Regions from separate parts of the Homo sapiens genome. Here region 1 is linked to region 2. A link means that fine-mapping ties the variant in region 2 to the expression of a gene that starts in the linked region. Tissue or cell type: whole blood. Region 2 holds a variant in brackets; the other region holds the start of a gene. All regions are shown on one strand. Distances are between the middles of the regions.

Region 1 (2,500 bases), 130 kb after region 2:
CCAGTGATCTCGACTCCCCCCTGGCCACAGACCCCCAGGGCATTGTGTTCACTGTACTCTGTGGGCAAGGATGGGTCCAGAAGACCCCACTTCAGGCACTAAGAGGGGCTGGACCTGGCGGCAGGAAGCCAAAGAGACTGGGCCTAGGCCAGGAGTTCCCAAATGTGAGGGGCGAGAAACAAGACAAGCTCCTCCCTTGAGAATTCCCTGTGGATTTTTAAAACAGATATTATTTTTATTATTATTGTGACAAAATGTTGATAAATGGATATTAAATAGAATAAGTCATAGTCTCTCTCTTTATTGGGGCTCAGGGGACACTCTCAGGGTAGCTGGGGGCCACGTGAAGGGGGGCGTTGCGGAGCGGCACAGCTGGAACTCCGGGATGATGTTCAGGCTTGGGGGCGGGGACCTCCATGCCTCCAGCCCCCAGGTGGGAGCAGAGGTAGGAAGGCACACTGCCCAGGAAAAAAATCAATCCTCCGCCCAAGGTACAGCAGAAGCGGCCTCCTTGGCCTAGGAGGCAGACTTCCTCCTGCGGGGAAATCCCTTCCTGGCTGGGAGGAGCAGGGGCCCTTCCTCTTGGTGGCCTCGGACATTCAGCAGGTGCTGGCACAGGCCCTGGCTGGGAGGTGGGGCGGGCAGGAGCCAGCCTGGAGGAGGGGCTGAGAGTCAGCAGGCACACGGGAACCCGGAACCCTGTGTGCTGGGGAGGAATCCCGCAGTGGCCGGGGGGCTTGAGGCCGCTGCTTTGTCTCTTCGTCCAGAGCCTTATGTAAGAGCTTTTCTCGGGAAACAGGAAGTCCTGCTTGCCAATTTCAGCACAGGGAGTAGTGCAGGCCTTATTCCAACACACCCGGCCCAGCCTTAACCCCAGAACTCAGCCAGTTTCTTGCTTCCGTGCCCCTGGTTCTCCTCCCCATCGAGCCCACCCCTCCTTTCCCACCTTCAGTCACCCCTAGTGAACTGCCCCAGCGATCTCTGCTGTGCTTGACCCCGAGGGTCTTCCACCCTCGCCCTGACCCTGGACACTGCCCAGCTTGGCCCCCCATCCTGCTCCTGGCACAATGCCCTCTAGCCAGCCAACCTTCCCTCCCCCAACCCTGGGGCCGCCCCAGGGTTCCTGCGCACTGCCTGTTCCTCCTGGGTGTCACTGGCAGCCCTGTCCTTCCTAGAGGGACTGGAACCTAATTCTCCTGAGGCTGAGGGAGGGTGGAGGGTCTCAAGGCAACGCTGGCCCCACGACGGAGTGCCAGGAGCACTAACAGTACCCTTAGCTTGCTTTCCTCCTCCCTCCTTTTTATTTTCAAGTTCCTTTTTATTTCTCCTTGCGTAACAACCTTCTTCCCTTCTGCACCACTGCCCGTACCCTTACCCGCCCCGCCACCTCCTTGCTACCCCACTCTTGAAACCACAGCTGTTGGCAGGGTCCCCAGCTCATGCCAGCCTCATCTCCTTTCTTGCTAGCCCCCAAAGGGCCTCCAGGCAACATGGGGGGCCCAGTCAGAGAGCCGGCACTCTCAGTTGCCCTCTGGTTGAGTTGGGGGGCAGCTCTGGGGGCCGTGGCTTGTGCCATGGCTCTGCTGACCCAACAAACAGAGCTGCAGAGCCTCAGGAGAGAGGTGAGCCGGCTGCAGGGGACAGGAGGCCCCTCCCAGAATGGGGAAGGGTATCCCTGGCAGAGTCTCCCGGAGCAGGTGAGTGAGGGGAGGAGGGTGTCTGGGAGAGGATGGTTAGCATGGGGGGTCTCTGGGCCTCCTGGTCTGCAAAGTTTCAAGGGGGTGCAAGAGAGGGTCTCCGGTTTGGAAGTCAGGGGCGCGGCCATTCCAGGAAAGGAAACTGTTAAAGGTTAATGCTTCTCATACCTAACAAATCCTGGAGGGCAGCCAGCACCAACACTCAGGGTGCTGGGAAAAGGTGCGTGAGAGATCTGAGGCATCTCGGGGGCAGGGGAGGGCTGGGAAGGCAGGCTGGCTGGGACCCTCGCATCTTAACCTAACCTTGACCCTCTTTCCATGAGCAGAGTTCCGATGCCCTGGAAGCCTGGGAGAATGGGGAGAGATCCCGGAAAAGGAGAGCAGTGCTCACCCAAAAACAGAAGAGTGAGGCTTCCAGGGTGCAGCAGGGGTGGGAGGTGATCAAGCAGCGTGGGGATTGTAAGCCCGAGTCAGGGTGAGGGTGGAGGCTGCCAACAGCACAACGGGGGAAAGTGGATGCGGCTGAGATTCCCTCCTTCTCTCCTCAGAGCAGCACTCTGTCCTGCACCTGGTTCCCATTAACGCCACCTCCAAGGGTGAGCACTATTTTAAATAATGGCTTTGGGGAGGGGCAATAACCAGGAACTCGGGCTGGCACTTGGGCTCAAGGGGTCCTTATAGGTGAAAGGGAAAGAACCAAAAAGCACCTGAGAGTGCCAAGAAGTCCTGACCGACACACTCTCACCTCCAGATGACTCCGATGTGACAGAGGTGATGTGGCAACCAGCTCTTAGGCGTGGGAG
Region 2 (2,752 bases):
CAGAGGGGGGTGGCCCAGGTGGCCCTAGGACCCCCCCTCCATGGAAAACCAGCTATGGCATAACACCGTGAGATGTTGCAATCAATACCAAGAAAGCCCCCACGATGCCGAGGACATCTTACTCCTGCTGCTGGGCCTCATCGTTCTTGTCAACATTGGCATCAACGTGGCAACTATGGTCAGTGATGATTGTGGACTACCTCTGGGGGTGAACAGGGCCAAGGGTGGGAGCCAGCTGCAGCCTACATCTCCACCTGCAGGTGCGGTCTAGATTGGGGCGGGGGCAGGGGTGGTGGTGCTGGGCGCGGAGGGCCTGGCCTTCACTCTCTTCCACCCTGCCCCAGATGTGGCATGGACTCCAGAACGCCTTAGACAAGATGATTGATTGGGCTACTCAGAAAAGTAAGTGTGGCTGCTGGAGAGGTAGGGGACCCCCATCCCCACCCCTGACAATGGCCCTAGAAACCCAGGCCCCAGTGTTCCCAACCTTGAGCTCTTCTGACAATTGCCCTGACTTCATGGACTCTTGCCTTCCCCAGATGAAATTCAGGCCAGTGAAAGTCCCCCAAGTGGTCCCCCAGACAAGGCTCAGGATGTCCACATCCACTGCATCCTGGACCCTGTGCAGGTGAAGATGTCCCGACCCACGCAGTACTCCTCTTTCTCCTGCCACCATTTCTCCAACCATCACAGTAGCAGTCTTCTTCGCTGTGTTCGTCGCCGCCGCCGCCGCCACCGCCGTTGTCGCCGTCGCTGCTGCAACCACCAGCAGCGGCCGCAGAACTACAGACAAATCCCCCATAGCCACTCAGTCTTCCGTAACCCACATCGCAGCCAAAAGATGTCACAACTACACCGAGTGCCTTTCTTTGATCAGGAGGACCCGGATTCCTACCTGGAGGAGGAGGACAACCTGCCCTTCCCGTATCCCAAGTACCCACGTCGCGGCTGGGGCGGGTTTTATCAGAGAGCGGGCCTGCCCTCCAATGTGGGGCTGTGGGGCCACCAGGGTGGTATCCTGGCCAGTCTGCCACCACCCTCTCTCTACCTGTCACCTGAGCTGCGCTGCATGCCCAAGCGTGTAGAGGCCAGGTCTGAGCTGAGGCTGCAGTCCTATGGGCGCCACGGTTCCCAATCCCGACTGTGGGGCAATGTGGAGGCTGAGCAGTGGGCCTCGTCTCCACCACCTCCCCACCGGCTGCCCCCTAACCCCTCTTGGGTCCCCGTGGGGCACAGCCCTTACCCCTCAGTGGGCTGGATGCTGTATGACTCCTGGGATCAGCGGCGTCGTGGCACGGAGGGCTTTGAGCGCCCCCCTGCCT[C/T]GGTGTCCCGGAACGCCCGGCCTGAGGCCCAGGGCTGCCGGGAGCACCACTCCCCACAGTCCCACCAGCAGAGCCTGCTTGGTCACGCCTATGGCCAGTCCCACCGCAGTCCCCACCCATCCACGGAACCCTTGGGCTACAGCTCCCAGGACCCCCGTGAGGTGCGGCGTCGGGCAGCTGACTGGGCTGAGGCTCTGCCCGCCTGGCGTCCTCTGACTACCTCTGCCTCCCTCACGGTGTTGGACGAGGCCTCCCATCAACGGACCCCAGCTCCAAGCTCAGTGCTGGTCCCCCATTCCTCCCAGCCCTGGCCCAAAGTCCAGGCTGCGGACCCTGCCCCTCCCCCGACCATGTTTGTCCCACTCAGCCGGAATCCAGGGGGCAATGCCAACTACCAGGTGTACGACAGCCTGGAGCTGAAGCGGCAGGTGCAGAAGAGCAGAGCCAGGTCCAGCTCACTGCCACCGGCTTCCACCTCCACCTTGAGGCCCTCTCTGCACAGGAGCCAGACCGAGAAACTCAACTGACCAGCAGGCGGATGTGGGGTGTGGGGCAGGGCATGGAGGGAGAGGAATAAAGAGAAACAGAGTCCAGGAAACACTGTGGTGGTCTGTAGCGTGGGAGTGCCACTCCTTCGGCCAGCCTGGGTCCCTGCCCTTGGCTTCCTGAAATGAGAAACCAGTGTCCCCTTCTTGGTGTGAGGCACCCCTTGGCTTAGTGGCCACGCGGCTGCCAGCAGGCCCTCCTAGTCTGCACCATGCACTACGTAGCTCTTGCACTGGCTGACGACAACCACCCAGGCTCTTTATTCTCCCTGTTTCCAGCAAGGATCAGGTCTGGATTCTGAACTCAGTGTCTTGAGTGGAGCTCTTTGGGATTTACTTAGCACATGGTACAGGACCAGGCCAAGGCTCTGGATTCCAGCCATGCCTTCCCCAAGGCTCTGAGGCGGAGGTCTCCCCAGTCTCTGGTGTGGTCAAGAGGTAAAGGATTCAGGATTCTGAAATGAAACTGCAGGAGTGGCCGAGTGCGGTGGCTCACACCTGTACAGCACTTTAGGAGGCCGGATCACTTGAGGCCAGGAGTTCGGGACCGGCCTGGCCAACATGATGAAACCCTGTCTTGGTCGGGCGTGGTGGCTCACGCCTGTAATCCCAGCACTTTGGGAGGCTGAGGTGGGCAGATTACGAGGTCAGGAGATTGAGACCATCCTGGCTAACACGGTGAAACCCCGTCTCTACTAAAGAAATACAAAAAATTAGCTGAGTGTGGTGGTGGGCACCTGTAGTCCCAGCTACTCGGGAGGCTGAGGCAGGAGAATCACTTGAACCCGGGAGGCAGAGGTTGCAGTGAGCTGAGATCACACCACTGCACTCCAACCTGGGTGACAGAGTGAGACTGCATCTCAAAAAAAAAAAAAGAAAGAAACC

What was found. PIP is the estimated chance that this variant, and not a neighbour inherited with it, causes the effect.
Region 1: it holds the start of TNFSF13, and the variant in region 2 is fine-mapped to the expression of TNFSF13 in whole blood (TOPMed, PIP above 0.99).

The regions. Positions count from the first base shown.
Region 1 is chr17:7,557,601-7,560,100 of GRCh38, forward strand. TNFSF13 (TNF superfamily member 13) reads left to right here and starts at 1,150. Exons shown (of 6, transcript NM_003808.4): 1 at 1,150-1,697; 2 at 2,024-2,102; 3 at 2,246-2,293; 4 at 2,449-2,500. The coding sequence starts at 1,440. It overlaps TNFSF12-TNFSF13 (TNFSF12-TNFSF13 readthrough), which reads left to right. Exons shown (of 11, transcript NM_172089.4): 7 at 2,024-2,102; 8 at 2,246-2,293; 9 at 2,449-2,500. TNFSF12 (TNF superfamily member 12) reads left to right here. Exons shown (of 7, transcript NM_003809.3): 7 at 1-281. RefSeq lists enhancers at 1-693, 279-338, 1,149-1,198.
Region 2 is chr17:7,425,649-7,428,400 of GRCh38, forward strand. SPEM2 (SPEM family member 2) reads left to right here. Exons shown (of 3, transcript NM_175734.5): 1 at 1-178; 2 at 345-402; 3 at 540-1,920. The coding sequence starts at 41. The coding sequence ends at 1,849. Among named protein-coding and RNA genes, the nearest start is that of SPEM2, 1.4 kb to the left of the region's middle. RefSeq lists an enhancer at 903-1,404. The variant C/T (reference allele first, on the strand shown) is at 1,323.